4 linked regions of the Homo sapiens genome follow. The protein of the gene in region 1 purifies or fractionates together with the protein of each later gene. This does not show direct contact. Each region holds a gene or a part of one and is shown in the gene's direction. Other genes may lie near its edges. The genes, in order: ARHGDIA, EZR, MSN and RHOC.

Evidence for each region.
Region 2: the proteins of ARHGDIA (region 1) and EZR purify together in Homo sapiens (co-purification; 3 studies listed by BioGRID and IntAct, with this or other methods). This does not show direct contact.
Region 3: the proteins of ARHGDIA (region 1) and MSN purify together in Homo sapiens (co-purification; 2 studies listed by BioGRID, with this or other methods). This does not show direct contact.
Region 4: the proteins of ARHGDIA (region 1) and RHOC purify together in Homo sapiens (affinity purification with mass spectrometry; 4 studies listed by BioGRID and IntAct, with this or other methods). This does not show direct contact.

What each region holds. Positions count from the first base shown.
Region 1 is NC_000017.11:81,868,338-81,876,280, reverse strand, and holds the start of ARHGDIA (rho GDP-dissociation inhibitor 1), read left to right. Parts: upstream 1-4,943; 5' UTR 4,944-4,983; intron 4,984-5,283; exon of another isoform or gene 5,284-5,645; intron 5,646-6,323; 5' UTR 6,324-6,350; coding exon 6,351-6,540; intron 6,541-6,655; coding exon 6,656-6,739; coding exon of another isoform or gene 6,740-6,874; coding exon 6,875-6,951; intron 6,952-7,044; coding exon 7,045-7,108; intron 7,109-7,205; coding exon 7,206-7,405; coding exon of another isoform or gene 7,406-7,916; 3' UTR 7,917-7,943. UniProt on the Homo sapiens protein: Controls Rho proteins homeostasis. Regulates the GDP/GTP exchange reaction of the Rho proteins by inhibiting the dissociation of GDP from them, and the subsequent binding of GTP to them.
Region 2 is NC_000006.12:158,774,365-158,781,380, reverse strand, and holds part of EZR (ezrin), read left to right. Parts: intron 1-4,876; coding exon 4,877-4,973; intron 4,974-7,016. UniProt on the Homo sapiens protein: Probably involved in connections of major cytoskeletal structures to the plasma membrane. In epithelial cells, required for the formation of microvilli and membrane ruffles on the apical pole. Along with PLEKHG6, required for normal macropinocytosis.
Region 3 is NC_000023.11:65,662,892-65,670,659, forward strand, and holds the start of MSN (moesin), read left to right. Parts: upstream 1-4,762; 5' UTR 4,763-4,950; coding exon 4,951-4,962; intron 4,963-7,768. UniProt on the Homo sapiens protein: Ezrin-radixin-moesin (ERM) family protein that connects the actin cytoskeleton to the plasma membrane and thereby regulates the structure and function of specific domains of the cell cortex.
Region 4 is NC_000001.11:112,704,128-112,712,043, reverse strand, and holds the start of RHOC (rho-related GTP-binding protein RhoC precursor), read left to right. Parts: upstream 1-4,916; 5' UTR 4,917-4,966; intron 4,967-5,105; exon of another isoform or gene 5,106-5,211; intron 5,212-6,875; 5' UTR 6,876-6,944; intron 6,945-7,916. Other genes in the region: PPM1J (protein phosphatase 1J), read left to right, coding at 1-73, 660-778, 973-1,036, 1,193-1,300, 1,433-1,584, 1,734-1,881. UniProt on the Homo sapiens protein: Regulates a signal transduction pathway linking plasma membrane receptors to the assembly of focal adhesions and actin stress fibers.

The sequences.
Region 1 (7,943 bases):
GAGGCAGGAAAATTGCTTCAACCTGGGAGGTGGAGGTTGTGGTGAGCCAAGATCGCACCACTGCACTCCAGCCTCGGGAACAGAGCAGGACTCCATCTCAACAAATAAAAATAAACAAGGTTTTTAAATAACAAAATTATTTTAAAAGTTCATCCTTTTAGTAATGCAAGAAAGCCAGTTAATGTGATGCCATCATTTTAGGACGTAGCATTGGCAAAGACATATATGTCTGTCTGTCTTTTTTTGTCCTTTTTTTTTTTTTTTTTTTTTTTTTGAGAGACAGGGTCTCTCTGCTGCCCAGGCTAGAGCGCAATGGTGCCATCTCAACTCACTGCAGCATCTGCCTCCCAGGTCCAAGCAATAATTCTGCCTTAGCCTCCCGAGTACCTGGGATTACAGGCACCTACCACCAGGCCCGGCTAATTTTGTATTTTTAGTAGAGATGGGGTTTTTACCATGTTGGCCAGGCTGGTCTTGAACTCCTGACCTCAGGTGATCCATCTGCCTCAGCCTCCCAAAGTGCTGGGATTACAGGCGTGAGCCACCGCACTTGGCCTTTTTTTGGTTTTTTTTTTTTGGAGACAGAGTTTTGCTCTTGTCACCTAGGTTGGAGTGCAATGGCGCTATCACGGCTCACTGCAACTTCTGCCTCCCGGTTTCAAGCAATTCTCCTGCCTCAGCCTCCTAAGTAGCTAGGATTACACGCATGTGCCACCATGCCTGGCTAGTTTTATATTTTTTAGTGGAGACCACGTTTCACCATGTTGGCCAGGTTGGTCTTGAACTCCTGACCTCAGGTGATCCACCCACCTCGGCCTCCCAAAGTGCTGGGATTACAGGCATGAGCCACCATGCCCAGCAACAGGATCTCCTTTTGTCACCAAGGCTGGAGTGCAGTGGCATGATCACAGCTCACTGCAGCCTTGACCTCCCAGGCTCAGGTGATCCTCCCACCTCAGCCTCCAGAGTAGCTGGGACTACAGGTGTGCGCCACCATGCCCAGCTAATTTTTGTAATAAACCCTTCGATTTACATGAACAAAAATTTTTTTTTTGAGATGGAATTTTGCTCTTGTTGCCCAGGCTGGAGTGCAATGGCACGATCTTGGCTCACTGCAAACCTCTGCCTCACGGGTTCACACCATTCTCCCACCTCAGCCTCACGAGTAGCTGGGACTACAGGCATGTGCCACCACGCCCGGCTAATTTTTGTATTTTTAGTAGAGACGGGGTTCCACCACATTGGGCAGGCTGGTCTCAAACTCCTGACCTCAGGTGTTGCGCCTGCCTTGGCCTCCCAAAGTGCTGGGATTACAGGCGTGAGCCACTGCACCCGGCCTATGGTGAATAAATTTTCAACAAAGGTGGTGAGACATTGCATTGGGGGAAACGATAGTTTCTCAACAAGGGGTGCCAGGACAGGTGGATGTTCCTACACACAGAAAAGATGTTCACTCCATACGAAAAGTTAACCCAAATACGGACTGTATATCTAAATGTCAGCAAACATAAAATATAGCAGAAGATCACAGAAAAAATATGAGAGAGAATCTTTACAATATCCGGTTGGGCTAAGAGTTTGTTTTTGAGACAGGGTCTCTGTCACCCAGGCTGGAGTGCAGTGGTACAATCATAGCTGACTGCAGCCTCGACATCACGGGCTCAAGTGATCCGCCTACCTCAGCTCAGGAGTTCTTAGGATAGCAAAGGCATGCACCATGTGGAAAAAACTACTGCACTAGAATAAAAGGTTTTGCCCTTAAGAAGACATCATTAAGAAAATGAAAGACAAACCACATAAAATGTCTGCAAATCACCTATCTTTTTCTTTTGGAGACAGAGTTTTGCTCTTGTTGCCCAGGCTGGAGTGCAATGGGGCAATCTCAGCTCACTGCAGCCTCTGCTTTCTGGGATCAAGCGATTGTGTTGCTTCAGCCTCCCGAATAGCTGGGACTACAGGCGTGCACCACCACACCCGGCTAATTTTTGTATTTTTGGTAGAGACAGTTTTTTTGCTATGCTGGCCAGGCTGGTCTCAAACTCTTGGCCTCAGGTGATCCGCCTGCCTCGGCCTCCCAAAGTGCTGGGATTACAGGCGTGAGCCACTGCACCCAGCCTCATATATCTGATAAAGGACTGTATACAGGATATGTAAGTACTCATAGCTTAATCAGACAGCCCAATTAAAAATGAGCAAAAGATTTAAATAGGTTTCTGCCCAGGAAGACTCATTGGGGAAGTGCAGGTGCGACTCACAGTGTGACACGACACTGCTTCACACTTGTACAGCTGGGATCAAGCACAGCAGGTATTGCTGAGCCTGTGGCCACCTGGAGCAGCCCAGCGTTGCTAGGGGGTGCAAAGTGGCACACCTACATTGGAAAACATTTGGGGACTTCCACTCAGGAATCTACCCAAGAGAAATGAAAGCACATATTCATGAAAAGGCTTAATGCAACATTTATAATGGTTTATAATATTCGTAAATGTTTATGGCAGTATTATTCATAATGGACAAAAAAGAAACCAAATATTTGCCAACTGGAATGGTTACAAACAAAATGTATACCCACACAATCGAATCTTTTATTTATGTATTTATTTATTTATTTTGACAGAGTCTCGCTCTGTCGCCCCGGCTGGAGTGCAGTGGCGAGATCTCCACTCACTGCAAGTTCCGCCTCCCGGGTTCACGCCATTCTCCTGCCTCACCCTCCCGAGTAGCTGGGACTACACGCACCTGCAACCACGCCTGGCTAATTTTTTGTATTTTTAGTAGAGACGGGGTTTCACCGTGTTAGCCAGGACAATCTCGATCTCCTGACTTCGTGATCCGCCCGCCTCGGCCTCCCAAAGTGCTGGGATTACAGGCGTGAGCCACCGCGCCCGGCCCAACAGTTTTTTTTTAAAAGCACTTGGGTTATTGGAAAGTTGGGCAACATGATCACCTGCACAGGGGCTCTGAGTCTTTAACAGTGAAGCATTTCACACCTGATTAGGAAACGCTGTGCTGATGACATGGCACTGACAGTGTGACTCAGTTACAGAAACTCTCAAATATCCCTCCAACATTCAGAAATTTTCAAAAGACACCAAGCTCGGTATTTTGCATAGTTCTGTCCCCAAAAATGCCCTCCTGTGTTCATGTCTGTGTCTGAACAAAGCAGCTGTGCGTGTGTGTGTGCGTGTGGTCTCCACTTCTCTTGATCAGCCTGGGTTGCCTGGCAGTATGGGCCAAACAGACAGGGCCCTGTCTGCATGGAGCTCAAGAGTGATTAAAAGAGGCTGGGTGGCCGGACATGGTGGCTCACACCTGTAATCCTAGCACTTTGGGAGGCTGAGGCAGGAGGATCGCTTGAGCTCAGGGGTTCAAGACCAGCCTGAGCAACATAGTGAGACCCTGTCTGTACAAAAAATAAAAAATTAGCTGGACATGGTGTTGCACACCTGTAGTCCCAGCTACTCGGGAGGCTGAGGTGGAAGGACTGCTTGAGCCCAGGAGATAGAGGCAGCAGTAAGCTGAGATTGTACCACTGCACTCCAGCCTGGGCAAAAGAGCAAGACCCTGTCTTGAAGAAAAAAAAAAAAAAAAAAAAAGATTGGGCACCCCGGTGGTTCATGCCTGTAATCCCAGCGCTTTGGGAGGCTGAGGTGGGTGGATCACCTGAGGTCAGGAATTCGAGACCAGCTTGGCCAACATGGTGAAACCCTGTCGCTACTAAAAATACAAAAATTAGCTGGGCATGTTGGCTCACACTTGTAATCCTAACTACTCGGGAGGCTGAGGCAGGAGAATCGCTTGAACCTGAAAGGTGGAGGTTGCAGTGAGCCGAGATTGTGCCATTGTACTCAAGCCTGGGCGACACTGAGACTACGTCTCAAAAAAATAATCAATCAATAAATAAAAGAGGCGTCCACGTTAACGAGTCCACAGTCCTAACAAGTGCTGCAGGCTGGACGCGGGGCAGCGTCCCACCCAGTGTCTGGTGCAGGGCATTTAGGGGCTTGGCCTCCAGGAGAGGCGAGCCCGGGGCTGGGTGCGAGCACTGCTGCTGGGCCAGGCCACTCACGTTATGCGGCCGTTCCTGATACTTCAACACGGCCCTTGTGGGCGAATGTGTGGAATCTCGGAACAAGCGGAGTGGGGAACAGGGCTCTGCGGTGAAGCCCAGGCTGAGGCAGCCCCTCATCTGCTCACGGTGCCAGGAGCTCCCTGCCTCCTGGTCCTGAGGAGCCGCGGGATTCCTCAGGGACACTAGGGCCTCTGCAGCGGCGCCTGCGCCAGGCAGCCACGCGCGCTGCGCACGAATTCTGTCTCAGCCTGGAGAAAAACACCTCCGCTGCGCCCTCGCCCAGCACCAGCTTTCCGCGGGGCGTGCAAGGGGCTCCTCCTAGCCCCACAGCCCTGTCTTTCCACGGGGGACACCAAGGCCCTGGAACGGCCCGCGCGCCAGCGCTCTCGCCCGTGTTTAACGAGAACTTAATCCCCGTGCCCGTTACCTCCCCGAAGTCCCGGGACTAGGTGACTAGGCCCCGAAGCAAGAGTCGCAGTCGGACCGACTGGGCCGGGGAGGGCAGCGCACTGCACCTGCGCGGGCTTCCACAGCCCACGCGGCCGCCGCAGGCCTCGAGTGGGCGCGGGTTGGGCAGCGGCGAGAGGCGGGACCGGACCTCGCCTCCCGGGTGCGGGCGCCCTGGGCTCGCGTAGGGAAGTGCCCTGGCTTACAGAGGTGACCACTGACGGGGCTTGGGGTGGAAGGTGACGACGCCAGAACCCACGCGGAACGCGCCCACGAGGCCCAGCCGCAAGATGGCGACGGCGTGCCCCCGGCCACCCGCGCGCCGCGCATGCGCCCTGGCCTTCCCCGCCCGAGTGAGCGGAAGTCTCGTGACCCCGGAAGTGACAGGCAGGGCGGGCGGGGCGGCCGACGACGTTCGTCATTTAGTGCGGGAGGGATCCTGAACCGCGCGGCCGAACCCTCCGGTGAGTGGCCGTGGCGGGGCGGAGGCGGCGGGGCGGAGGCGGCGGGTCGGGGCGGGGACCGGCGGCGCCGGCGGGGGCGGGGGGCGCTGAGGTGGGGGCTTCCGCCTTTGTTCGCGCCCCGCCCTGAGCCCGCGGCAGGGTCTCGGCGGGCGGGGGCGCGGTGACAGCGGGCCAGGGCGGTGCGGGCTAGGGCGGGGCCGGGGCGGGACCGGGCGGCGGCGGCCCCGGCCCCACGTGCGGGTCCCGGGCCGGAGGGGCGGCGGGGACCAGGGGAGTGCCGGCCCCTCCCGAGCGGTCCGGAGCTTCTTTCATGGCCGCCGAGGCGCGTGGGGCCCGGGCCAGACCTGAGGGCCCCTCCTTGGGGACGCGGGGGGCGCCGGGCCGGCAGCCGCGGTCCATCGCGTTCGGGGGCGACGCGGGGATTGGGGCGCGGCCTCCCCCAGCGCCCGGGCCACGCCCGGCACGGATTGCGGGCCCTGCGGAAGTGCGGGCCGCGCCCTAGGATCCCGGCGCCTACGGCTATCCTCGCGCGGCGCGGAGGCCCCAGCCCCTGGAGGAAGCAGGGCGGCCTGGACCCCGGCCTGGGTGTCCCGGGTGTGCTGCTCCCTGACCCACCTCCCACGCTGCCGGGAAGGATCTGAGCCTGACAGATCCCCTGCCGGGTCAGTGCTGCCCCGGGCACTCCGGGCCCACCATCTACAAGAGGGCCCGAGAGTACTGAGTGGCTGTGGTAGCTCCCAAGTTGTAGGTCACAGACCCTCACAATTGTGGAGAAACCGCAGATACTTAGGATCCCCGTGTCCAGGTGGCCCCGTGCGGTATTCTAGCTGCCCCTAACATCCGAGCTCCAGGGGCATCCTGTTTGAAAGATGACGCTGAGCCGACCACACACGTTTACATGTGACTACCACGGCCAGAGGAGCAACCCTACTGAGGGATACCGAGCCCCGTTACCCCGTAGGGCGAGGGCCTGGGCAGCTCAAGAGCGGCAAGACCCTAAGAGAGGGTTTAGTGTGGGCCCCGCCGGTTGATTCTGGGGCCTGCTAGCCCCGCCCCACACATACAGGGGGCTGCTGCCTCCTCCATCGTGGAGGGGGAGGTGTGTCCTCTCTCCCCATGATCGGCTGCAGTTCCCATTTTGTCTTAGATGTTATACCTGGGGTGGGGGCACCTCACACTGCCCCAGAGGATGCCCCTGAGCAGGAATCGCGGGGGTGGAGAGGAGCGAAGGTGGCCCCCTTGGAGCCCTTTTGGAGCTCCGGCTGCAGCCCACACTCCTGCTCAGAAGTGCGCCTCCGTTGGGGATCCAGGTCCAAGGCCTGTCACCGTCCCGCCCACAGGTGTCCCGACCCAGGCTAAGCTTGAGCATGGCTGAGCAGGAGCCCACAGCCGAGCAGCTGGCCCAGATTGCAGCGGAGAACGAGGAGGATGAGCACTCGGTCAACTACAAGCCCCCGGCCCAGAAGAGCATCCAGGAGATCCAGGAGCTGGACAAGGACGACGAGAGCCTGCGAAAGTACAAGGAGGCCCTGCTGGGCCGCGTGGCCGTTTCCGCAGGTGAGTCTGGGCTGCGGGAGCCGGGTGGCCGCCCGTTCACTCCAGCTGTCTTGCCGCTCCCCAGCCCCTACTTCCACTGGTGGGGGTGGGGCCCTCACCTGCTGTCACTCCCCAGACCCCAACGTCCCCAACGTCGTGGTGACTGGCCTGACCCTGGTGTGCAGCTCGGCCCCGGGCCCCCTGGAGCTGGACCTGACGGGTGAGTGCCCTGCGGCCGCGGGGGTCCGGGCGGCCCCTGGTGGGGATCTCGGGAAGTGCAGCCAGGGGGCCGCGCAGGGCTGGGGCTTCGCGCAGGGCTGCTGGGCAGTCATTGAGGGGGAGGTCCCCCCAACAGGCGACCTGGAGAGCTTCAAGAAGCAGTCGTTTGTGCTGAAGGAGGGTGTGGAGTACCGGATAAAAATCTCTTTCCGGGTAAGCTACAGGCTGCTGTGGCCAGGGAATGGAGGCGGGGCTGGGGCTGGGGTCCGGACCGACCTTCCCTGATCCTCGCTTCGGGTCCTGCAGGTTAACCGAGAGATAGTGTCCGGCATGAAGTACATCCAGCATACGTACAGGAAAGGCGTCAAGAGTGAGTGGGGCCCCGGGCAGGGCAGAGGGGGCCGCTTGGGTGCGTGCTGCCAGGCGGGGAAGCGGGGCCGCTGACCGCCCTCTTCCTTGTGCCGCAGTTGACAAGACTGACTACATGGTAGGCAGCTATGGGCCCCGGGCCGAGGAGTACGAGTTCCTGACCCCCGTGGAGGAGGCACCCAAGGGTATGCTGGCCCGGGGCAGCTACAGCATCAAGTCCCGCTTCACAGACGACGACAAGACCGACCACCTGTCCTGGGAGTGGAATCTCACCATCAAGAAGGACTGGAAGGACTGAGCCCAGCCAGAGGCGGGCAGGGCAGACTGACGGACGGACGACGGACAGGCGGATGTGTCCCCCCCAGCCCCTCCCCTCCCCATACCAAAGTGCTGACAGGCCCTCCGTGCCCCTCCCACCCTGGTCCGCCTCCCTGGCCTGGCTCAACCGAGTGCCTCCGACCCCCCTCCTCAGCCCTCCCCCACCCACAGGCCCAGCCTCCTCGGTCTCCTGTCTCGTTGCTGCTTCTGCCTGTGCTGTGGGGGAGAGAGGCCGCAGCCAGGCCTCTGCTGCCCTTTCTGTGCCCCCCAGGTTCTATCTCCCCGTCACACCCGAGGCCTGGCTTCAGGAGGGAGCGGAGCAGCCATTCTCCAGGCCCCGTGGTTGCCCCTGGACGTGTGCGTCTGCTGCTCCGGGGTGGAGCTGGGGTGTGGGATGCACGGCCTCGTGGGGGCCGGGCCGTCCTCCAGCCCCGCTGCTCCCTGGCCAGCCCCCTTGTCGCTGTCGGTCCCGTCTAACCATGATGCCTTAACATGTGGAGTGTACCGTGGGGCCTCAC
Region 2 (7,016 bases), on another chromosome or scaffold:
TCAGATGGTTCTTTCCCCACAGAGCATGCTGGGGTGTTGGGCAGGCTCACTTTCTGCCTCTCTTCTCCCCATTCCTGAAGGCACACCCCTCTCTTCATGAAAAAAGCATTTATGTAGATATTCAGTCATTTAATAGGCCCAAATTCTTTCCCTTTTGAACAAATATTGACAACTTGGTAGCAGCATAAGCAGGAGACTGTCCTGAAGTCTGAGGAGTGCTGAGAACTCGCCAGCTGTTGCGCTGTTACCTCTCTCGGTAGAACTAGGAGAATTAGATATGCCTGAAACATTGTTCAGGTGAGAAAGCTGATCTATTGAATATGGAAATTGAGCTCTAAGAGATTTATACTCTGCAAGTAAAGTCTCTATTAAAACACCTGTTTTAGTATTAAATAGGGTCTGGCTGGGAAATCTGTCTCTTGGGGTTCCCTTTTCATTGTACACATAAGCATTAAGTGGGAGCATGTAGGACTATTTGTCATCTTTCTTTAAACCCTTAGCTTGGAATAGGTGGGAGTATAAAGAGGGCAAAAACAGGTAAGCGCCCTCCTGACAGGCATTGTAAGCTTGTGAACAGAGGAAGTTCAGTTTAGCTGGGTTACAATTTGAAACCTGACACTCGGACCAAAAACAAAAACTAACAAAAACTAGAGGAACCTGATCTTTAGTCCTGTAAAAGCACTTTTTCTCCCTTAGCTTCATCCCTCTTTGGGCAGATTTCATCATAGAAGTCCTTCTGTAGGTAGGAGTTTCTGGAAATGCACTAGGTCCAGGGCTTCCACCTTAAAGGGAAAGGGTGCACGGGGAGCTTGGGGACTGAAACAGGAGCCACAGAACATGTCTCTTCTTTAAATTCCTTGCGGATAGGTACTCAGGGCTTCGCTTGCTTTCTCACGTCTCTTTCCGTATGCACTCCACTGTCACCCTCTGGCCCTCTAACACATTTCCAAGAAAACTGCAGGCATCCATATCCTTCCTCAAAATGAAAGTGCATATGATATACTAGAGGTTGGTTATGTTTTGTTCTTTTGATGTAAAATTTAAATACAATGAAATGTAATCTTAAGTGTTCATTTGTTGAGTTCTGACAAATATGCCTGAAAAATGCAAAATCTTAAGACATGTAGAACATTATCACACTCAGCTACATATTTTGGATTTACATTTTTTAATCATTCTTGGTTTTTTTTTTTTTTTTGATATGGAATCTCACTGTGTCACCCAGGGTGGAGTGCAATGGCACATTCTCAGCTCACTGTAACCTCTGCCTCCTGGGTTCAAGCGGTTCTCCTGCCTCAGCCTCCCGAGTAGCCAGGATTACAGGCACATGCCACCACTCCTGGCTAATTTTTGTATTTTTAGTAGAGATGGGGTTTCACTGTGTTGGCCAGGCTGGTCTCAAACTCCTGACCTCAAATGATCTGCCCACCTTGGCTTCCCAAAGTGCTGGGATACAGGTGTAAGCCACCATGCCTGGCCCATTCTTGCATTTTAAAGTCATTTCAGGCTGGGCATGGTGGCTCATACCTGTAATCCCAGCACTTTGGGAGGCTAAAACAGGTAGATCCCTTGAGCTCAGGAGTTCAAGACCAGCCTGGGCTGGTCTTTGCCAACATGGCAAAACCCCGTCTCCACCAAAAGTACAAAAAATTAGCTGGGCGTGGTGGTGCATGCCTGTGGTCCTAGCTACTTGGGAGGCTGAGGTGGGAGGATCACTTGAGCCCGGGAGGCGGAGGCTGCAGTGAGCCAAGATTGTGCCACTGCACTCTAGCCTGGGTGACAGAGTAAGACCCCATCTCAATTTAAAATATATATATTATTTCAAACTTTAAAAAGATTCTAAAAATAGTACAAATAATTCCCATATACCCTTCACTTAGCTTCCTCAAACATTAACACCTTATGTAACCGTAGTCCAAATACCAAGATAAGAAAATTAACATTAGCAGTCTCTAGACCTCATTCCCATTTTAATCAGTTGTCTCACTGATGTCCTATTTCTGCCCCGGGACCCTCTCTGGAGCCACACAGTTAGTTGTCAGACCTCCCTGTCTCCTTCGATGTGGGATAGTTCCAGTCTTTTTTTGTCATGACCTTGGTATTTTTGAAGAGTACTGGCCATTGACTTTGGAAAGCCCTTCAGCTTGGATTGTCTGGTGTTTTCTCATTATTTGGAGTTTTACATTTTTGGTAAGAATAAAGTGCTGTTTTGCCCTTCCAGGACCTCTTTCAAGGTGGCACATGTGGTCGGTATATCTTATCTTAGGTGGTGCTAATTTTGATTATTAGTTAAGGTGGTGTCTGCCACGTTTCTCCACTGTAAAATCACTATCCTTCCCTTTACAATTGGTCAGTATATTTGGGGGAGATAATTTTAAACTATGTAGATGTCCTAGTTCTAGCTACCATTGATGAGATTACTGTGGTATTTGAGAAATTGTGATTTTTAAAAACTTTTTACGTGTATTAATTGGAATTCTATAAGGAGCCAATTTCTGTTCTCCATTTATTCAGTTATATTAATATGGACTCATGGATATGTGTTTCGGTCTTTGGGTTATGATCTATGAGTATGTATCTTCTTGCTCAGGTTGTTTGAGATTTGGCCTTTAGGAGCACCTTGAAGTGTGAGCCCTGCATTCTTTGCAGGCTTCCTTGCTGCCTGGCTCCTCGAGATGCACCAGGTTCATCCTTTGTGTTCCCTGTTCTAGTCCTGGAATCAGCCATTTCTCCAAAGGCCTCTGTCTGGTCCCTGTTATTGGAGAATCACGCTTTTTTAATGTGTGGCCTAAGCAAGGACACTTATAAACCCTGTGGCCACCTTCTCTGTAGACCCTGTTCATGTCCTATATGTGATCTCTTAGGAAAAAGGAAATCCTTGGGCTTTAATTTTCCAACTTTGGTCAAGAATTAAAAGTTCTTTAACTCAAAAGTGAGTCATAATTTTCATGTTTAACCTTTTTGTTTTGATACTGCAGTTATGCTTATGAGTGGCTATGAATTGTTATATGAGGTTTCAAAGTCCTAAGAGGAAAAACTTTCTAGGCACACCAGAGAGCCGGAGGCCTAAATTTTCTAAGGTCAGAACCTGTTTTGAGAGTCCTGTGTAGAGACAGGAGCCGGAGAGGGGATCCCAGCCCCTTGAAGTTTCAGGATGCGGCACGCTGGCTCACAGTGCTATGTGCTGTGGGCGGAGCCTCCGGAGCTTGGATCCTAGCTTCTCTGTTGGTGCCAGCAGGCTGCTCTTGTGTTTTGGGAGAAAGTGCTCCAGAAGCAACACATGCCTACCTGGTGCCACTTTCACAGCCTTTCAATGTAAGGAGGACATAGGCTGAAGTCAGTAGCAGGGCAAGGTGGTATCTGGAGTTCCCCTTTAATGCTCTGAAACCTGTAAAGAAAATTACATCTCGAAGATAAAAGAACAAACTCATTGCATGTCTGTTTGAATGCCAGGTGTGTTTTTTTTTAATGGGGATTGGTGATTCTAGAGCATAGCACTGTAAAAGAAAGGATGTATACAAAAGCTTTGACATTTAGAACCATGGTCTGGCCAGTGTCCTGCCATCATTCCTGCAGGCACACCATGACTGACTGCGCTAATTCCCCAGAAGGGCCATGTCAGGCTTACATGTTTGCCCTCAGCCTACAGAGTCCACCCCACTGCCTTGATCTAGTTGATGTGATCATAACGAAACCTGTATTGCTCATCAGTATTGAAGCTGTTGGTAGGCCATAGATTGCTTGACCTTCCTGCTACTTCTAAAATGAAGGTTTTTGTGGGATGTTGGAAAGGACTGCTTTGGAGGGCAGCATTGTTGGATGGTGGTTTTGAGGATTTGTCGTTATTTCCAGAATGGCATTATCCCTGGTAAAATGTGTTGGAAGAATAGGGTGGGAAGTGTCAGGTGAGCAGAGCAATGTGGTCTTGAAGTCACATGATGAACTTGGGAATGCTAATAAAAGCCAGAGTCTGGCCAGTCATGGCATTGCATTGGTTAAGTAGGATTAGCCCTGTGGGGCCTTCATTAGGGCGGTTAGTTTGAAGGCTGTCCTGGAAGTTGGAGAGTGACATGGGAAGATGTCTGTCCAGCCAGGAGAACACACACTGGAATGAGAACCAGAGGAGCAGAATGCATAGCAAGGCCTCTGTCCGTTTCTCTTGGCAAGCTCTGTTGAGTATGGCACGTCTAGGAACGTGATGGGATCTTGGCCCTCCCTGTTGGTTTCATAGAACTAAATGATCAGTAACTTAAATAACATTCAACAGTCTGTAGCAGAAGAGCCTGTATGTTAAGAGAGGCCTCAAGGGAAAGGGAGGCAGCCCTGGGGAACTGTGTGTTGAAAGGTGGGTCTGAACCGTGGAGTTTGGGGCTGGATTTGACAGCTCTTGGATGCTGAGTTAAGGACTGTGTTGACATGGGAGGAGAGGAAATTAATCAGATCAGCAGACTGAAAGTAGGGCTGCTCCAGCACACAGCTTGAGAGTGGGCTCTGGCAGGATGAGAGGTAGGTGAGTGTGGTGATGTGATGTGGGAATGAACAGCAGAAGATACCTGAGGGGGAGGGTCAAGGTACCTGGGTAGGAATTTCAGTTGACCTCGAGATCACCAGCCTGGGTAATCATAGGTGCCCTAGACTGAGGAAAAACCAAAGGAAATGGGAACAGATTAAGGTTGCAGATGCCTTGCAGCCAACCACTTGGCTTAACCTAGGACAGGTGGGAACTATTTGATAATAGCATATAACACATTGTGCCTCTTGGGTTAGCTTCATATTATTTTAATTGAACTAATAAGAATTGATTTGCGAATCTCTCTTAGCCAATCCAAGAACATATGTATACATCTAACCATCCACTTCTTCTTTTTAACCTCAGGTTAACCCCAAAGATTGGCTTTCCTTGGAGTGAAATCAGGAACATCTCTTTCAATGACAAAAAGTTTGTCATTAAACCCATCGACAAGAAGGCACCTGTAAGTTCCAAAGGATTCTATTCAGGGGCTACTGTTTTTCATTCTTATACTTGTCAGGGTAACGGACAAGTTATACTGTGACGAGTAGCCAGTGATAGTCCAAACTCCTCATGAGGTTACATTGAGGGCCAGAGATCCTGTGGGCCAGGCAATTGCTGCAGGGGAGACCACTTAACTTTTCAAATGATTCTCATTCCTTATGAAGAAAAGGGCAGTTCTGAGCCATTGGCCAAATGATAAGCATTTCCCAAAATGCTGTGTTTTTGGTGTGGAGAGCCAGCCTGTCCCCTTGACCACCTGGGTGCAGGGACTCTCCCCGGCACCTGACGGACAGTGGGACCTGCGAGTCTCAAGGGCCAGATTTGCCTTTCAGAGCTGTCCTGGAACTTACCCAAGATAGGGACAGTCAGACTTGCACCCAAGCATTGCTGGTGCCCAAGGTTTCATCGGGGCTTCACCCACTTCTGTTGTCAGAGGTGTGCATCCTCACACAGGTGACACTGGCAGGCAGTCATTTTGGGAGGACATGGTAAGAAGGCGACACTTTATGTCCTGAAATCTGATAGTATTGATTGTAATAGCTGCAAAGACCAGTGCATTATGTAAATTTGGTTTTATTTATTCTGCTGACATTTAAACTTTTGTTAACTCAGAATATTTGAGACATACGCACATAACTGTAGCATTGTAGAATGGGTAAGGATTTTGTTATCTAATCAGAAATCTAGTTCTCTAAAAAATTGCCACCTGAAGAAATTCTGTTACCACCTTAGAGCCTGTTCTGAATTTTACGAAAATTATAGATTGGAAAGGACTTTGTGTTCTCATGTAATTTTGGTTCCTTAGTTACAGTGTTAAGCTTGGAGAGGCAAACATGGGCTGTGGTCCATACCTTGGTTGTCTTGTTAACCCTTTTGGGACTGGGTACTGCTTAGCAATGGTAAATCCACTTAGAACAGTATGTGGTGTTATTGTCCTGTTACTTCTCCCCACATACAGGTTTGTCTAGCATAATTTAAAATCAGCAGGTCTTGACAATTTTGTGAAAGTATTTTCTTCTTTGTTAAAAACGTCTTGGCCAGGCTCAGTGGCTCACGCCTGTAATCCCAGGACCTTGGGAGGCTGAGATGGCCGAATCACGAGGTCAGGAGTTCGAGACCAGCCTGGCCAACACAGTGAAAACCCCATCTCTACTAAAAATACAAAAATTATCTGGGCGTGGTGGTGGGCGCCTGTAATCTCAGCTGCTCGGGAGGCTGAGGCAGGAGAATCGCTTGAACCCAGGAAGCAGAGGTTGCAGTGAGCTGAGATCGCCACTGCACTCAAGCCTGGGTGACAGAGCTAGACTCCGTCTCAAAAAAAAAAAAAAAAAAGGGCTCCTGCTGTTTGCAAACTCTTGGCTGCTACTCTGTGGGTAGTTGCACGGTTATTTAAAATTAAACGCGTATTGAATGCAGACTCTAAGGCTCCATGGCAGCAGTTCATATTATGCAACAGCATGAATGGAGGGTCATAGCGTCTTCATGTCACTTGGGTAGTAAGATTGGCACAGTTTAGAAGAGCAAGAAAATGCTGAAATCTCTTCATCAGTAGGCTACTACGTACTCTGTGACGCTACTGCCTTTTCAGAACACTTATTAAAAATTTGACTAGAGCAGCAGCTCTGGACTAGACTGTTTCAGAATGTTTGTGCGTGTGTGTGTGTGTGTGTGTGTGTGTGTGTGTGTGTGTGTGTTTGATGATAAGTCCATCTCTTGAAAAGCTGAAGAATATTTTCATAATAAGCCCCAAGCAGAAGCCATTGTAACGCATCTCGTGCATGTGCCTTTATTATAGAGTAGCCTCATGTGAAGCCATCTCGTAAGCAAAAGAAACATTCGCTGGTGGCACGCTGTCCCAGGCACTCTTCCAGGGCTGTGTGCACCATCAACAAGGCAAAGCTCCTACCCTGGTGAGCCTACATTTACGTGAAGGAAAGGGTTAAAAAGGCAACTGAGATGCTTCCTGGTAGTAAATTTAACAGTACAGCTGTGATTAAAAACT
Region 3 (7,768 bases), on another chromosome or scaffold:
AAGGGCTTAACATCTAGAATCTATAGGGCACTTAAACAAATCAATAATCTAAAAATAAATAACCCTATTAAAAAATGAGCAAAGGGCCAGGCGTGGCGGCTCACGCCTGTAATCCCAGCACTTTGGGAGGCTGAGGCAGGTGGATCACCTGAGGCCAGGAGTTCGAGACCAGCCTGAACAACATGCTGAAACCCTGTCTCTACTAAAAATACAAAAATTAGCAAGGCGTGGTGGCATGCACCTGTAATTCCAGCTACTCGGGAGGCTGAGGCAGGAAAATCACTTGAACCCAGGAGGTGGAGGTTGCAGTGAGCCACGATCACGCCATTGCACTCCAGTCTGGGCAACAAGAGTGAAACTTTGTCTCAAAAAAAAAAAAAATGAGCAAAGGACGTGAACAGACACTTCTCAGAAAAAGACATACAAGTGGCCAACAAATATATGAAAAAAAAATGCCTATCATCACTCACCATCGGAGAAATGCAAATCTAACCCACAATCTAACAGATGTAAGGTGGTAACCTTACATCAGTCAGAATGACTAGTATTAAAATGTCAAAAAAAACAACAAATGCTGGCGAGGCTGTGGAGAAAAGGGAATGCTTATACACTGTTAGTGGGAATGTGAATTACTTCAGCAACTGGGCAAAGCAGTTTGAAGATTTGTCAAAGAACTTAAAACAGAGCTACATTTGTTCCAGCATTCTTATTACTAGGTATATACCTAAAGGAAAATAGATCATTATACCAAAAAGACACATGGACTTGCATGTTCATAGCAGCATTATTCACAGTAACGAAGACATGAAATCAATGTAGGTGCCCATGATCAATGGTTGACTGGATAAAGAAAATGGTTGACTGGATAAAGAAATGGTCAACTAAGGCCAGGAGCGGTGACTCATGCCTATAATCCCAGCACTTTGGGAGGCCGAGGTGGGCTGATCACAAGGTCAGGAGATCGAGACCATCCTGGCTAGCATGGTGAAACCCCGTCTCTACTAAAAATACAAAAAAAATTAGCCGGGCATGGTGGCGGGTGCCTATAGTCCCAGCTACTTGGGAGGCTGAGGCAAGAGAATGGCATGAACCCGGGAGGCGGAGCTTGAAGTGAGCCGAGATCACGCCACTGCACTCCAGCCTGGGTGACAGAGTGAGACTCCATCTCAAAAAAAAAAAAAAAAGAAAGAAATAGTCGACTGGATAAAGAAAATGTGGTACATATACACCGTGGAATACTATGCAGCCATAGAAAAGAATAAAATTATGTCCTTAGTAGCAACATGGATGGAACAGGAGGCCATAATCCTAAGTGAATTAGTGAAGGAACAGAAAGCCAAATACCGCATGTTCTCACTTATAAGTGGGAGCTTAACATTGAGCACCTACAGACATAAACATGGGCACAACAGACACTGAAAACTACTAGAGGTGGGAGGGAAGAGGACATGGGTTGAAAAGCTTCCTAATGAGTACTATGCTCACTACCTGAGTGCAATATATCTATGTAACAAACATGCACATGTACCCCCTGTATCTAAAATAAAACATGAGAAAATAATATTTAAAAAATTTCTTGCTTGTACTATTGCCAGAGCTTCTTAACTGAGCTCTTTGTCTTCTGTACATTAGCTATCTGGCCTTGGGTAAGTCTTTTCCTCTTTCTGATCCCCAGTTCTCCTGACCTGGAGTGAGACTGGACTAACTAGTCTCTGATAGTTTATGCTCTCTCTCTATTTCCCATCCTCTCCTCCCCAGAGGTCCAACCTCATCTTTCTCCCTCAGCCCCTTTCCCCCTATTTCTTAGCTCCCCGAGCCTCTGACACCCCCTGCCCCTGCTTGGACTTCTATGCCCCCTTTCTTTTTTTTTTTTTTTAAGACAGTGTTTTGCTCTGTCACCCTGGCTGGAGTGCAGTGGTATGATCTTTGCTCACTGCAGCCTCTGCCTTCTGGGTTCAAGTAATTCTCCTGCCTCAGCCTCTCGAGTAGCTGGGATTACAGGCACATGCCACCACACCCAGCTAATTTTTGTATTTTTAGTAGAGATGGGGTTTTCCCATGTTGGCCAGGCTGGTCTTGAACTCCTGACCTCGAGTGATCTGCCTGCCTCAGCCTCCCAAAGTGCTGGGATTACAGGTGTGAGCCACCACACCTGGTCCTTGTTTCCCTTTTAGTAGTGTCTTCAGCTACTTGACACTCTCTACCCAACTCTCCCCTGTGTATGTGTGTTGTGGGGAGTGGTTGGCATGGGAGGTGGGGAATGACACAAGGGAGTTTCCACTTTCCAGAAAGTTGGAGTCGCCAAGTAAATTCTTTGTCTTTAGGCATTTAGCTTCATGCCAGGTCCCTGTAGGTTCTAGGTGAACATGAGTGAAGAAATCAGTTGAGTTCCTTGAACATCTGGTGGAAAAGGGCCAATGGCAGTATTAAGGCGTGTGATGAGCTGTCATTGCTACTCCTGCTGCTGAGGCTTTCTGGTGAGTGCTGCTCTTCCTTGGGGACAACTGCTCATGGAGACTGTTTGGGCTTTCCGATGAGTGCTGCTCTTTGAACAAATGCTTAGCTCAAGGAAATGATCTTGGCAGGGAACTTTGTTTACCCTAGCACACATCAATGAATCTTGTTAGCAGTGAGAGAAACCGAGGCACACTGAATCGTGGACACTGTTGGTCTGGGAAGGCAAAGGAAGAGGATGGAATCAGACTACTGGTTCCTGAGTGCAAATGCAAGACCAGCCCATATGCAATCCTGTTAGGCTCATCTATTGTCCTAGGGAGTATACTTCCTTTCTCATCCCTTTATAATGTCAGAGTGGGAAAGGACCTTGGAAGCCCCGGAGTCCAGTCCTTTCTTGCTACAGAAATGGAAACTCAAGCCCAGAGAGGGGGAGGGAATTACCCAAGGCCACATAGTGGTCATAGGATGAGTTAATGGCAGAGCTATACGTAGAAGCCAGGTGTCCTGACCTCTCAAGTATCCTTTCCATTGTCTCAAACTGGCTTACCATCTGTGGTGCCTTACCTCACAAAGGATACTCAGACCATGCCTTCACATGGTTGCCAGTGGAGAGGAGGAAAAAAGGACTATGGCCAGCCACTTTCAAACTAAAACTCGGACTTATTTTATTTTACTTTTTTTGGAGACGGAGTCTTGTGCTATTGCCCAGGCTGGAGTGCAGTGGCCCAATCTGGGCTCAGTGCAGCCTCCGCCTCCCGGAAGCGATTCTCCTGCCTCATCCTCCCGAGTGCCTGGAACTACGTGCCATCACACCCGGCTAATTTTTTTGTTTTTTTTTTTCGCATTTTTAATAGAGATGAGGTTTCGCCATGTTGAGCAGGCTGGTCTCAAACTCTTGACCTCAAGTGATCTGCAGGTCTTGGCCTCCCAAAGTGGTAGGATTACAGGTGTAAGCCACTGCACATGGTCTCACTTACTATTATTATTATTATTTTTGAGACAGAGTTTCACTCTGTTGCCCTGGCTGGAGTGCACTGGCTCAGTCTTGACTCACTGTAACCTCCGCCTCCCGGGTTCAAGCGATTCTCCCTCCTCAGCCTCCCGAGTAGCTCGGATTACAGGCACGTGCCCGGCTAATTTTTGTAATTTTAGTAGAGACGGGGTTTCACCATGTTGGCCAGGCTGGTCTTGAACTCCTGACCTCAGGTGATCAGCCCGCCTCAGCCTCCCAAAGTGCTGGGATTACAGGAGTGAGCCACTATGCCCGGCTCTCACTTATTTTTTTTGTATAGATATGGGAGGGGGTCTTGATATGCTCCCCAGGCTGGTCTCGAATTCCTGGGCTCAAGCAATCCTCCTGCATCAGCCTCTCAAAGTGTTAAGATTACAGTCATGAGCCACCGCACTCAGCCTAAAACTCAGACTTGACCAGACGACTTCAACAGTCTAGAACACTGCCATCCTGGGATTCTGTGACCTTGACAAGAAGGAGAAAGGGAGCTGGCAGACAAACCCCAAGGGTGTGGACTAGGGAGGTCACATCTAACCTGAGGGAATTATAGCCAGCCCCATCAGGACATCAGAAAGTGAATGTACTGGGAGAGGGGCTAAAGGATCAGGTCACTGATTTGAGGAAGGTGAAGACTGGGATTTAGATGAAGGAAAGATAAATGAGGACTGAGCAAGGATGGGTAGGAAATATGATGGGGAGAGTCCTACGGAAGAGAATGGATGAAGTGTTTTAAGAGGTGAGGCAGTTTAGCCAAAAGAAGAGAAGTTTCCTGTGGACCTGAGATCTTCAGGCCTTTGAGGAGCTGTTAGGGACAACAGGGGATCTGTGTGGCCTCAGGGAGCAGAACTGAGATCCATGGATGGAAGCCATAGAGAAAAGGAGTTCAGACACGGCAAGAACTTTCTAAGAGCCAGAGCTGTCTAGAGAAGGAAAAGATAGGTAGTGAGCTCCCCATCAGTGGAAAGTTGCAGTCAGGGGCTGAGTAAGCATCTGTCAGGGCCCAGGGTCTGGGCCCTGAGTGGGGGTGGGGCTGGAAGGCCAGGACGTGGAAGGCTAGGGGCTGTGACCAGGGTGGGAGAGGAGCCGGGTGGGTCTGGGTGGGGAGTGGTAGCTACCCTAGGTCCGCCCGGGCCCAGCCGGGCCCCCCACGTGGCCGCTGTGGCCTGGCTGCGCCGGGCCTGGCCAGGCGGGGCTGGGCGGGGCAAGGCCAGCGGTCGGCGGGGAGGCGGGCGCGAGGGCGGGGAGCGGCGCGGAAGCCGGGCCACATAAAGGAGCGGGCGGCGCGACAGGGGCGGCTCTTTCCTGGGTGGGGTTTGTGAAGTCGTGGCCCGTTAGCAGGAAGCCTAACAGTCGCCCCGACGCTAGTGAGGGACCCAATCTGAGTCCCCGGCCAGCCGAATCCAAGCCGTGTGTACTGCGTGCTCAGCACTGCCCGACAGTCCTAGCTAAACTTCGCCAACTCCGCTGCCTTTGCCGCCACCATGCCCAAAACGGTGAGTGCCGGAGGTGGGCGCTGTCGACCCCAATGGCTCTGGCTGAGCCTCATAGCCCTTTGCTGATGGCTGAGGGCTTGGCCAGCCACCGGCCCGCCTGGGACGCCGCGCCCTCCGCCATAGCCAAGGGTAGGGAGGGGACCGGAGTGGGATCCTGGTCTGGTGCGCCCTCAGGGGTTGAGGGGGTGTCCAGGCTGGAAGTTTGGACGGGGCGAGGCCTGCCTCTTTCTCAGGTTCCAGTTCCCTGTGTCTGAGATGCAACAGTCAGGACGGCTTCGTTGGGGCCTGGGGTTTCCCCTTTTCCCTGATGGGCCATGGGCACAGAGGAGAGGATTCTGGTCCAGAAGACAACACTTTCCCCAACCCAGGAATTGGCACCTTTCTGGGGCAAGGCTGCCAATGTCCAAGAGGGGACATGGGAACAGAGAAGCAGGGAGAAAGGAGGGAGCCGCTCGGGGCGGATCCGGCACCCCCACTCATCTTTCCCACAGCCTCACCGGGTGGCTCCAGCTGTTTTCCACTAGGAGGTGAGGAGAGAGATGTGAGGAAATCGTCATCGAGGCTGCACCCGAGAGCACCAACACTTATTTAGGCACCAGTCTGAGGAGAGGCCTACCCCATCTCCTGGGAGAGAGGACCGGTTTCTCCCTCCTCTCCACCTCCAAATCCCTGCCCCTCCTATTGCTTAATGCCTCTCTATCTCCTCCTATCCCCTCCGGACTATTTTGTGTGGTGTGGGTTTTCTCGTGGGGCCACACCTTTCTAGAGTGGTGGTTGATTTGGGGATGCGTCTCCACCCCACTGGCTGTTACGAGAGGAACAGAAGCCTCCTGGGAGTGGGGATAGGGGGGCCGGATGCCCAGGAGGGAGAGGGGAGGAGGGGTGTGCCTGACTAATGAGCTCTGCTTGCTTTTGTGCAAGTCATGCCAAATGGCTGCTGAGGCCCTTCCCTTGCTCAGAAAGGCCTGGTGACCACCCTGGCTTGAGTCCCTTAGGCCAAACAGCTTGTTGAGCTGGCCTAGGCAATGCAGTGCTCCCAAACATGTCTCCCCAGGACTGCTTGAGCCTTGTAGAGGTGAGATAGTGACTAGTAGCCTTGAAAAGGGCTGAAGGTCCCCTGGGATGAGAGGAGGAGAGTTGGGGGCCCAGCCTTTTGGGTTTGTGATGAGCTTTGGTTGCCACGTTACTGTATACCAGCCTCACTGCCAAGTCGTTCTTGCCTTTCCAGAACCTTGTCCTTCAGAAACACCAAGTTTTCAAAAAGTATGTGCTTTCACTGTCTATCTCCTTTAAATTGCTTGTGGTTTTAGGACATGAGGCTTTTACACACTTTGTTCCCTAGTCCCCGCCCCCAAAGAGAGAGAGTAATGGTTTTGGAGAGAGGGGAAAATATCCCATTGTCTGCCAAAACAAGATTATAAAGATCCTGTCAGGAGCGGCTCTTTGGGTCTCTCTCTGTGGTTGACTCCTGACTCCTCTTAAGGTGCGGCTTTGCCTGAACAGTTGGGTGGATCTCTGGGAATAGACATTGCTCCACGGTCTTTCTTCTGTAGTGGCATATCTCATCCTCAGTTCTGAGATAGCCCACTTTGAAACACAGCTTCATGGGCCTGGAAGTTGCTTCAAACTTGCATTAACCGTCTCATCTGAGTCAAAGTGGCAAAGAAGACAAGACAGCGTGTTTATTGTTTTCCTGGGAATGGAGAGAGAATGGAGTATAAGCTGTTTGTAGTCAGGCCTGGAGTAATGAGGGTACCTAAATACTGAAGGCATTTTTATGCAGATTGACTGAAACCTGAATCAAATTGGAAGGAGAGGGCTGAATTTTGATAGACTGGAAGTATTAGAGAATTTTCTATACTTTGACTCAAGGAATGGTCAACTTTTAGGAAAAGCAACTATATTATGTCTGTTAAGATCATAGAATCTTAACCTGAAAGGGACCTTGGAGACTATTTAGTACAACTCTCTTAAAAAAAAAAACTAAAACTAAAACAAAAATCTAATGAGGCTATTGAGACCTACAGGGAAAGACCTACCTAAGGGCACATGGTGACTGAGCCAAGATTGGGGTCCAGGCTTTCTGATGCTCATCTCATTGACCCTTTATTCTGACCCAATGATTGAGTTCTTGACATTTGAGTTCCCTTTCTTGCTCCAAACAAATTGCCCACTGTTCTCAGACCTTTATGGTCCTCAGATAAAAGGAAATGAGTAATTTGAGCAAAGTGGCCAAGGTTGACATTTGTGTGGTCTCCTGGTAAGGTTCGGTAGTGTCACCAGGTGCCTTCTGTTACTTTTCTTATTCCTCATACCAAGGCCAAGGTGTTCAGGGGCACACCCTAGTTCACTGAATACCAACCAGTAATTTTAATTAAAAGGGGAAAAAATTTCCCTTTCTCTGCTCCATTTTCATTTATGTGCTTTAGGCTATTTCTAGCGTGTGACAGATGGAGAAAGGTAGTGGAAAATCAAACTCGTTCATTCATATTGCAGCATGTCTACAACCTATCTAGGGTCGGTTTCACTTTTATAGCTAATTGTCCCTCCTAGTCAGCCCAACCTCCCCTACATTTGTTAAAACACGCCAGCCGGGCGTGGTGGCTCCAGCCAGTAATCCCAGCACTTTGGGAGGCCGAGGCAGGCAGATCATGAAGTCAGGAGTTCGAGACCAGCCTGACCAACATGGTGAAACCCTGTCTCTACTAAAATTACAAAAATTAGCTGGGCGTGGTGGTGTGCGCCTGTAATCCCAGCTACTCGGGAAGCTGAGGCAGGAGAATCGCTTGAACCTGGGAGGCGGAGG
Region 4 (7,916 bases), on another chromosome or scaffold:
CCGGAATGGTGAAATCATTCCAATGTCCCGGGAGTTTACCCCGGAGACTGAGCGCCAGCGTCTTCAGCTGCTTGTAAGTAGGAACCAAATTCCCTACCCCCATTCTTTGTCGGGTCTTGTGCCTCCCTGCACCCCATGGCCCTGAGAACTCTCACACCCCCACCACAGGCACAGAAAGCACTTTACTGGGAAGGCCGCTGTGTGGACTATGGAGTGCGGGGCTGAGCCGGTGGGAGGTTGCAGCAGGGAGGCTGCAGCACTGGGCTGGTCCAGTGCTCCCACTGTGGCCCCAGCTGAGGCAGGAAGTAGAGACTGAGGTGGGGGAAGGAAACAGCAAAGGCCCCTGAAAGGCAGTCCGGCTTAGTGCCTAAACGCATGTGGCTGTGGAGCTGGAAGCCCGGGATGCATCCTGGTCTGAGTGCTTTGCTAATTGTGTGACCGGAGCAGTTCCCTCCCTTAACCTCTCTGTGCATCAATAGTTCCTGCCTTAAGGGCTGTTGTGAGGAGTAAATGAGTTAATATTTGCTAATATTAGAATAACGTGTGGCACATGGTAAACTCTGTTTAAGGGTCTGCTGTAGTCAACGTCATCTGTGTGCCACCGTGTGCTGTGAGCATAATGCCCCCTGGCTCTCTGTTCTGATCATCCCCAACTCCAGGGCTTCCTGAAACCAGAGCTGCTAGGCAGTGAATTCACCCACCTTGAGTTCCCCCGCAGAGTTCTGCCCAAGGAGCTGGGGCAGAGGATGTTGTACCGGGACCAGAACATGACCGGCTGGTAACACTTCCCTCAGAGCTGGGGCCCGTTCCCATGGCAACACAACCAGTCCCTCGCCCGCAGCAAGGTGGAAGCTGGAGGCTGGGAGTTGGGAGGATGTGGCCCTTCTAAGGGGTTTGTGTGAGGGTATGCAGCTCCTAGGGGAGAGGGGCTTTGATGCCTGGGTGATGCCTCCTCTACTCCCCCCTCCCCAGGGCCTACAAAAAGATCGAGCTGGAGGATCTCAGGTTTCCTCTGGTCTGTGGGGAGGGCAAAAAGGTAAACTCCATGGTAGAGGTGGGAGAGGGGAGGAGGACCTATCACAACTTGTCTAGGGAGGTGGAGGTTCTACCTGAGGGTAGGGGTGGAAGGGATCTTTGGTTTCAGAGAATCTAGCAGAGGACTACAGTGGCACTCCCTCCTCATTTCTTTCAGGCTCGGGTGATGGCCACCATTGGGGTGACCCGAGGCTTGGGAGACCACAGCCTTAAGGTCTGCAGTTCCACCCTGCCCATCAAGCCCTTTCTCTCCTGCTTCCCTGAGGTGAGCCCCTTAAACCACACCTTGCCTTCTCTGGGAGTCTCAGGCCAGCTTTCATCTGCAGTCCCTTTATCTCCAAGCTCCCTGTCCAGCAAACCCCACACCTCAATCCTCTCTGCCCTTTTCTCCCACCAGGTACGAGTGTATGACCTGACACAATATGAGCACTGCCCAGATGATGTGCTAGTCCTGGGAACAGATGGCCTGTGGGATGTCACTACTGACTGTGAGGTAGCTGCCACTGTGGACAGGGTGCTGTCGGCCTATGAGCCTAATGACCACAGCAGGTAGGGGCTGCATGGCATGGTGGTAAGGGGATGGCATTGGTGAAAGAAGGGTCAAAGGGAAGCAATGCTTGGGACCCCACATGTGGGCCTGTGTATCTGTCTTCCCACATACATGTTGGTACATGAATGTGCATGTGTGCTCCTGGCAGGTATACAGCTCTGGCCCAAGCTCTGGTCCTGGGGGCCCGGGGTACCCCCCGAGACCGTGGCTGGCGTCTCCCCAACAACAAGCTGGGTTCCGGGGATGACATCTCTGTCTTCGTCATCCCCCTGGGAGGGCCAGGCAGTTACTCCTGAGGGGCTGAACACCATCCCTCCCACTAGCCTCTCCATACTTACTCCTCTCACAGCCCAAATTCTGAAGTTGTCTCCCTGACCCTTCTTTAGTGGCAACTTAACTGAAGAAGGGATGTCCGCTATATCCAAAATTACAGCTATTGGCAAATAAACGAGATGGATAAAGGTGTGTGTCTGTATTTGCTTTGACTAGAAACTGAAAGATAAGAAGAAAGCTCTGTGGGGTGGTGGAAAGAGCACCAGAACAGTTCTAGAAATGTGGTGTCCCCCAGGTTCTTTATTCCACCCCCACTCTTTCCACTCCACGCATTTGCTGTGAGTGTCATCATCCACTTCTGTGGCCTCACCCATCTGCCCAGACCCTTCCTGAGCTTTAGACCCACACATACCAGTCATCTCCCGAATGTCTCCTGGATAGCCTGCTGGCACTTCAATTCAAATACCTCAAACTAAATTCACGACTGCCCTCCATAGCATGTTCCTTCTCCTGGTATATCCCCTCAATGGGCACCAGCTCTGCTGCTCCAGTTAGAAATCTTGGAGTTGGTCACCCTTGGCTTTCATTTCTTTCTCATCAAGGTAATTGATCACTAAGTATTGTTGACTATAGACCTTTAAAAGTATTTCTCTACTTATCTCCATCTCTCCCCGCCTTCAGTCACCACCACCTTTTACTATATTGGCCTCCTAAATTTAGTGGCTCCTTATTGCGCCTAGAACAAAATCAACACTCAACTCCTGTGCATGGCATATAAGGACCTTCATGATCCAGCCACTGCTTCCTTCTCCAGCTTCATTTTTTACCACCACCACCAACTTCCTGGGGTTTGCATAACTGTGGGCTTTTAGTAGCTCCAACTTATTCAAAATCTACTGCTGGACACGGTGGTTCACGCCTGTAATCCCAACACTTTGGGAGGCAGAGGTGAGAGGACTGCTAAGCCCAGGAGTTTAAGACCACCCTGGGCAATAGTGAGACCCCATCTCTACAAAAAAATAAAAAATTAGCTGAATGTAGTGGTGAGTGCCTGTGGGAAGCAGTTAAGCATCCAAGGAAATTAAGAGTATTGCTTATAGTAGAAAAGAATAAAGATCTCAAATCAGTGATCTGTTTCCACCTTAAGAGGCTAGAAAAAGAACAGCAAATTAAACCCAAAGTAAGTTAAGGGAAGCAAAAATAAAGATGAGCAAAATAATTAGAAAAGGCCCCTCACCAGCCTGGGCAATATAGCAAGACCTCATCTGTACAAAAAATACAAAAATTAGGTGTGATGGTACACGCCTGTAGTCTCAGCTGCTGGGGAAGCTGAAGTGGGAAAATCATTGGAGCCTGGAAAGTTGAGGCTGCAGTGAGCTGAGATCTTGCCACTGCACACTTAGGCAACAGAGACCTTGTCTCAAAAAAAAATTAAAATTAAAAAAATCTACACATCACCTTATCTTGAGAACTTCACCTGTTGTTCAGGACTGGGTATCGCACAGCCCACACATGCCCACACTACAGCAATGACCTCCGGTATTGTAACTGTCTACATTAGGAGTCAGTAGGGAGTAGGAATTAAGAACAGGGGCTCTAGAGTTCAGCTGTTTGGGTTCTAGTGTCAGACCCAGCACTAGCTCTGTAACCTCTCTGAACCTCAATTTGCTTCTCAGTAAAATGGAGATAGCTACCTCATGGGATTCTTGTAGTTAATGTATGTGGACCCAGGTCCATGTAATATGGATTCAATAAATGTTAGCTATCTTGAAATTGCATTCCTCATTTAGACTCTAAGTTGTTTGAAGGCAGAAATGGATCTTCCGAACATAGCTCTCAGTTCACCCTCGAGAAATGTTCATTGAGTCAGTTAAGAGGCCTGGGGCCAAACTGCTGCGGACCTGTTTTCACATTTGTCAAATGTCTGGATTGCACTTCAGATATTTAAAGTCTGTATGACTCCTAACATTCATTCATTCATCAAATATTTGTTGACAACCTATTATGTGCCACTCACTCTGCTAGACAACGGGGGAAGGGACAGGCTGGAGGAGCCCGTGAGGTAGCAGGGCCAGACCACCAGTTTGGAGCCAGACAGGCCCGGCTGTGTGAATTCTTGCTGTCACAAGTCAAAAACAGTTGTGTAAGCCACTTGATTTCTCTGAACCTCAGCTTCTCTATGGGCAAAAGGGGATGGGTATATTTTCCCCAGAGATCTGTGATGAATATTGAAAGGGTTAAGCTGTGTAGTGTCCCAAGCACAAGCCAATGAAATGTTGGTGGACGTCCTCATTCTACTCCCACCTCCTCAGCTCCCTTACAGGGAAAGGAGATACGCGTGTAGGTAAATATCCTATGCGCCAAGTCAGACCTAGGAGTGGGAACAGAATTCACAGCTGGGATCCAGAAGCATTTCTAGGCGCACCCTTTGAGGAGTAGGTAGGAATTGGACTCCTGGAAATTCCAGGCCCAGGGAAGAAAGCGAATTGTGAGGAGGAACGGTGGTCTGGGTCTGAACGGCTCTGAGAGGTCTTCAAGTTTGGGGGATGACGTTGGGCTGTACGATCCTAGGAACAAGAGGGTGGACATCTCCCCCCAACCAACACACCCGCGCCGGGCCCTGGGACCTCCCGGCGGATACCCTTTCCCAGTCCCGCTTCCCGCGAGGTCCCAGGTGCAGCAGGAGCGGGTGGCCGCTTGGCCACAGGAGGGCAGCAGCGGCCCTTCCTGACCCCACCCCGAGCACCTCTTAACTTTCCCGACGCCGGTCCTCCCCTAGGGGATTGAAGGCTGGGCAGAGTCTGAGTCCACCCGGGTCGTGCTCCCCCCGCTCGCCCGGCTCCTCCGCAGTCCAGGAATCTCCCCGTGGCTCTCCCCGACCTGGAGGGGTGGACGCCCCTGGCCCCCAGTCCCCGGCCTGCGGAGGGGGCCGGTGGCTGCGGCCCTGCGCGGGGCCGGGGCGGGCCGAGCCAAGGGCCGCCCCCGGCCGACCCTCCCCCTGCCGGGCCCGCCCTCCCCGCCGCGGCGCTGGAGGAGGGCGGGGCGGGGCCCTGGGGTCAGTCTGAGCCTCCGGCACCGGCCGCGCAGCTGGAGGCGGCGGAGCGGAAGGTACCCTGGGCCGGGGCTGCGGGCGGTGGGGCGTCTTGGGAACTCGTCCCCAGGAGAGCACTTTCCCTTCCTCGCTGGCCCGGAGATCGGGGCCCGTGCGAGGAGGGGCTTCGGCCTGGGCGTGGACCCCGTTCCCTCCAAGCGGAGTCGGCATCCGGGCTGGGCGGTGGTCGGACCGCGTCGGCCCCTCCCCGGGCTGCAGCGAGGGGGCCCGGACCTGCCGGCAGGGGCTCTGGCCTCCTGAGGTCCGAGTCGGAGCCCCTTCCCTTCTCCTCCCAGCTTCCCGGAACCTGCCCCGCCGGGCGAGGGGCGAGGGAACTTCAACTCAGACGCCCCAGCCCCCAGGGTGGGCGGCCGCAGGGGACCTAGAGTGGGATGGGGTGGGAATTCCTCCAGGCCAGGAGGGAGGTATGGCGGGAATAGGGGCGGGATGTGACCATTGGGGCCTGCCACTGCTCGGCAGGGTCTGGACGCCGCCCTGGACGGTTCCTGGAGCCCGCTTGTGTTGAGGATAAGGGAGATGGGGAAGGATCCAACTCTGTGTGTGTGTGTGTGTGTGTGTGTGTGTGTGTGTGTGTGTGTGTGTGTGTGTGTGTGTGTGTGTGTGTGTGTGGTGTGTGTGTGTGTGTGTGTGTGTGTGTGTGTGTAGAGAGAGAGAGAGAGAGAGAAAATGAGATTGAGAATCCTCCTTCTTCATACTCGAACCAAGAAAGAGTATCCTGGGGTTTGGGACTGGGATCCCGAGGCCGAGTCCCGCCCTCACTCTGGTTTTAAAGTTGAGAATGCAGTATCTCTTGGTATCTCCAGAACGGATTCCTTCCCTAGGTGTAGGGTGGGCCGGCAAAGTCAACCGGCCGCTCTGGATCATCTGGGAATTCAAGAGAGCGATTGGAGAGAGGTCTGATGTAGCCACACTGTCTTGTCTTGGGGAAGGCCCCAGAAGTTCCAGGCTCCATTCCAGGCCCTGTGTGGGGCTCAGTTGCCCCTCTTAAGGGGTCAGTGGGACAGTCCCTCTGGGGCTGCCTCTCACAGGGAGTTGTCCATGCCATCTTGGCCTTGGGCCTAGTGTCCTGGCCTGGGCTGCCTGCTGTTCTGGCCCAATCATAGCCTGGAGGGAAAGTCTTCTAATTGGGCTGGAGGCTCCAGGTCCCTTAACGCATGCCTCAACCCCGGGTTTCTGTCCTCTGCCTCCCACCACTCTGGTGCCGTCTGAATTACCCTGCTGGGGGGACAGCAGTGGCATACTCATGCCTAAGTGACTGGCTTTCACCCCAGTAGTGATTGCCCTCCATCAACACTGCCCACCCCAGGTTGGGGCTACCCCAGCCCATCTTTACAAAACAGGGCAAGGTGAACTAATGGAGTGGGTGGAGGAGTTGGAAGAAATCCCAGCGTCAGTCACCGGGATAGAATTCCCAAGGAACCCTCTTTTTGGAGGATGGTTTCCATTTCTGGAGGCGATCTGCCGACAGGGTGAATGCCTTCTTGCTTGTCTTCTGGGGAATCAGAGAGAGTCCGTTTTGTGGTGGGAAGAGTGTGGCTGTGTACTTTGAACTCCTGTAAATTCTCTGACTCATGTCCACAAAACCAACAGTTTTGTGAATGTGTCTGGAGGCAAGGGAAGGGCCACTCAGGATCTATGTTGAAGGGAAGAGGCCTGGGGCTGGAGTATTCGCTTCCTAAAGGGCAGTGTGAGGTGGTGGTGGGGTGTGGGGAGTAGAGGCGTTCAGTCAGCCCAGTTTGACAGGATGTGGGACTGAGAGAAAAAGCTAGGTTTGAGGCTGAGATCAGGTTACCGTCGCTTTCTTAACTGCTCCCTGCCTGGTTGGTGCTGGGACTGGCCCTCATTTGTCTCTTCTTTTGGGGCTCCTCCCAGCCCAGACTCTAGCCCCCTCCCCCTTCCCAACAGCCTTGACTTCATCTCAGCTCCAGAGCCCGCCCTCTCTTCCTGCAGCCTGGGAACTTCAGCCGGCTGGAGGTCAGTTCCCCTCCCCAGGGAAGGAGGAAGTGAGGGAAGCTGCGAAGGTGTGATGAACTGTGCAGATGCTCGCTGTGTGTGCTGGGGGTGGGGGACACATGGAAGCCCGGGAAGCTGACTCCTTGCCCTGAGTCACAGGGAGGGGTGGGCAGGGCATGCGGGTGAGCTGGACTGAGGGAGGAAGGGGCTGTTCCAGAGTGGGTGGAGGTGATTCCCTGGTGGATTCTTCTCAGTCACTGTGCTGTGGTAGATGTGTGGCTCCCTACAGTGTGGTCATTGTCCCCTGCCGGGGGCTGAGTGACCCAGTGTTGCTGGCAGGCCTAGGAGGAAGGGGGGAGGAAGGCAGCCTGCCCAAACTCGAGCTGTGGGCATTGCTGGGACTGAGCCTCCTTTGTATTACTTGGGGCTTTGGGGACCGGGTGGGGTGGACCAGGGAAGCTGGCTGGCTGCTACCCCTGTCCTCTGTCTGGGTTTCCCTGCTTCTGCTCTCCCTCCTGCCCCTGAGGTGACATGTCGAAGAGGCACGACTTTGAGTCACACAGTCCTGCTTTGGGTGCTGTCCCTGCCCCTTATAAGCCACAGCTCTGAATCTGTCTTAACCTCACTGAGCCTTAGTTTCCTGGTTTGTCAAAATGGAAAGTGCACCATCTACCTTCCAGGCATCTGGGTACCGAAGGAGATAATTCCTGCCAAAATGCCCGACAGAGTGCCTGGCACCTAGGGGCTCTATAACTATTCTTCCTTTACCCACCTACCACCTGGTAGCTGGTTCTGCTACTCTGGTCCTAGAGAGGGACTCCTCATTTGTGACTGGACAGGTATGACTTGTGCTGAGGGACAGTCTGTTCTAGATTGGACCTTAGAGATTATTAAACTGTAAATGCATCAAAATCCTGGTAACCAATGAAGTCTGACTCGAAACCCTGATGTGTGAAGTAGATAGAAGCTTGCTCCCTGGACGTCCCGCATCCC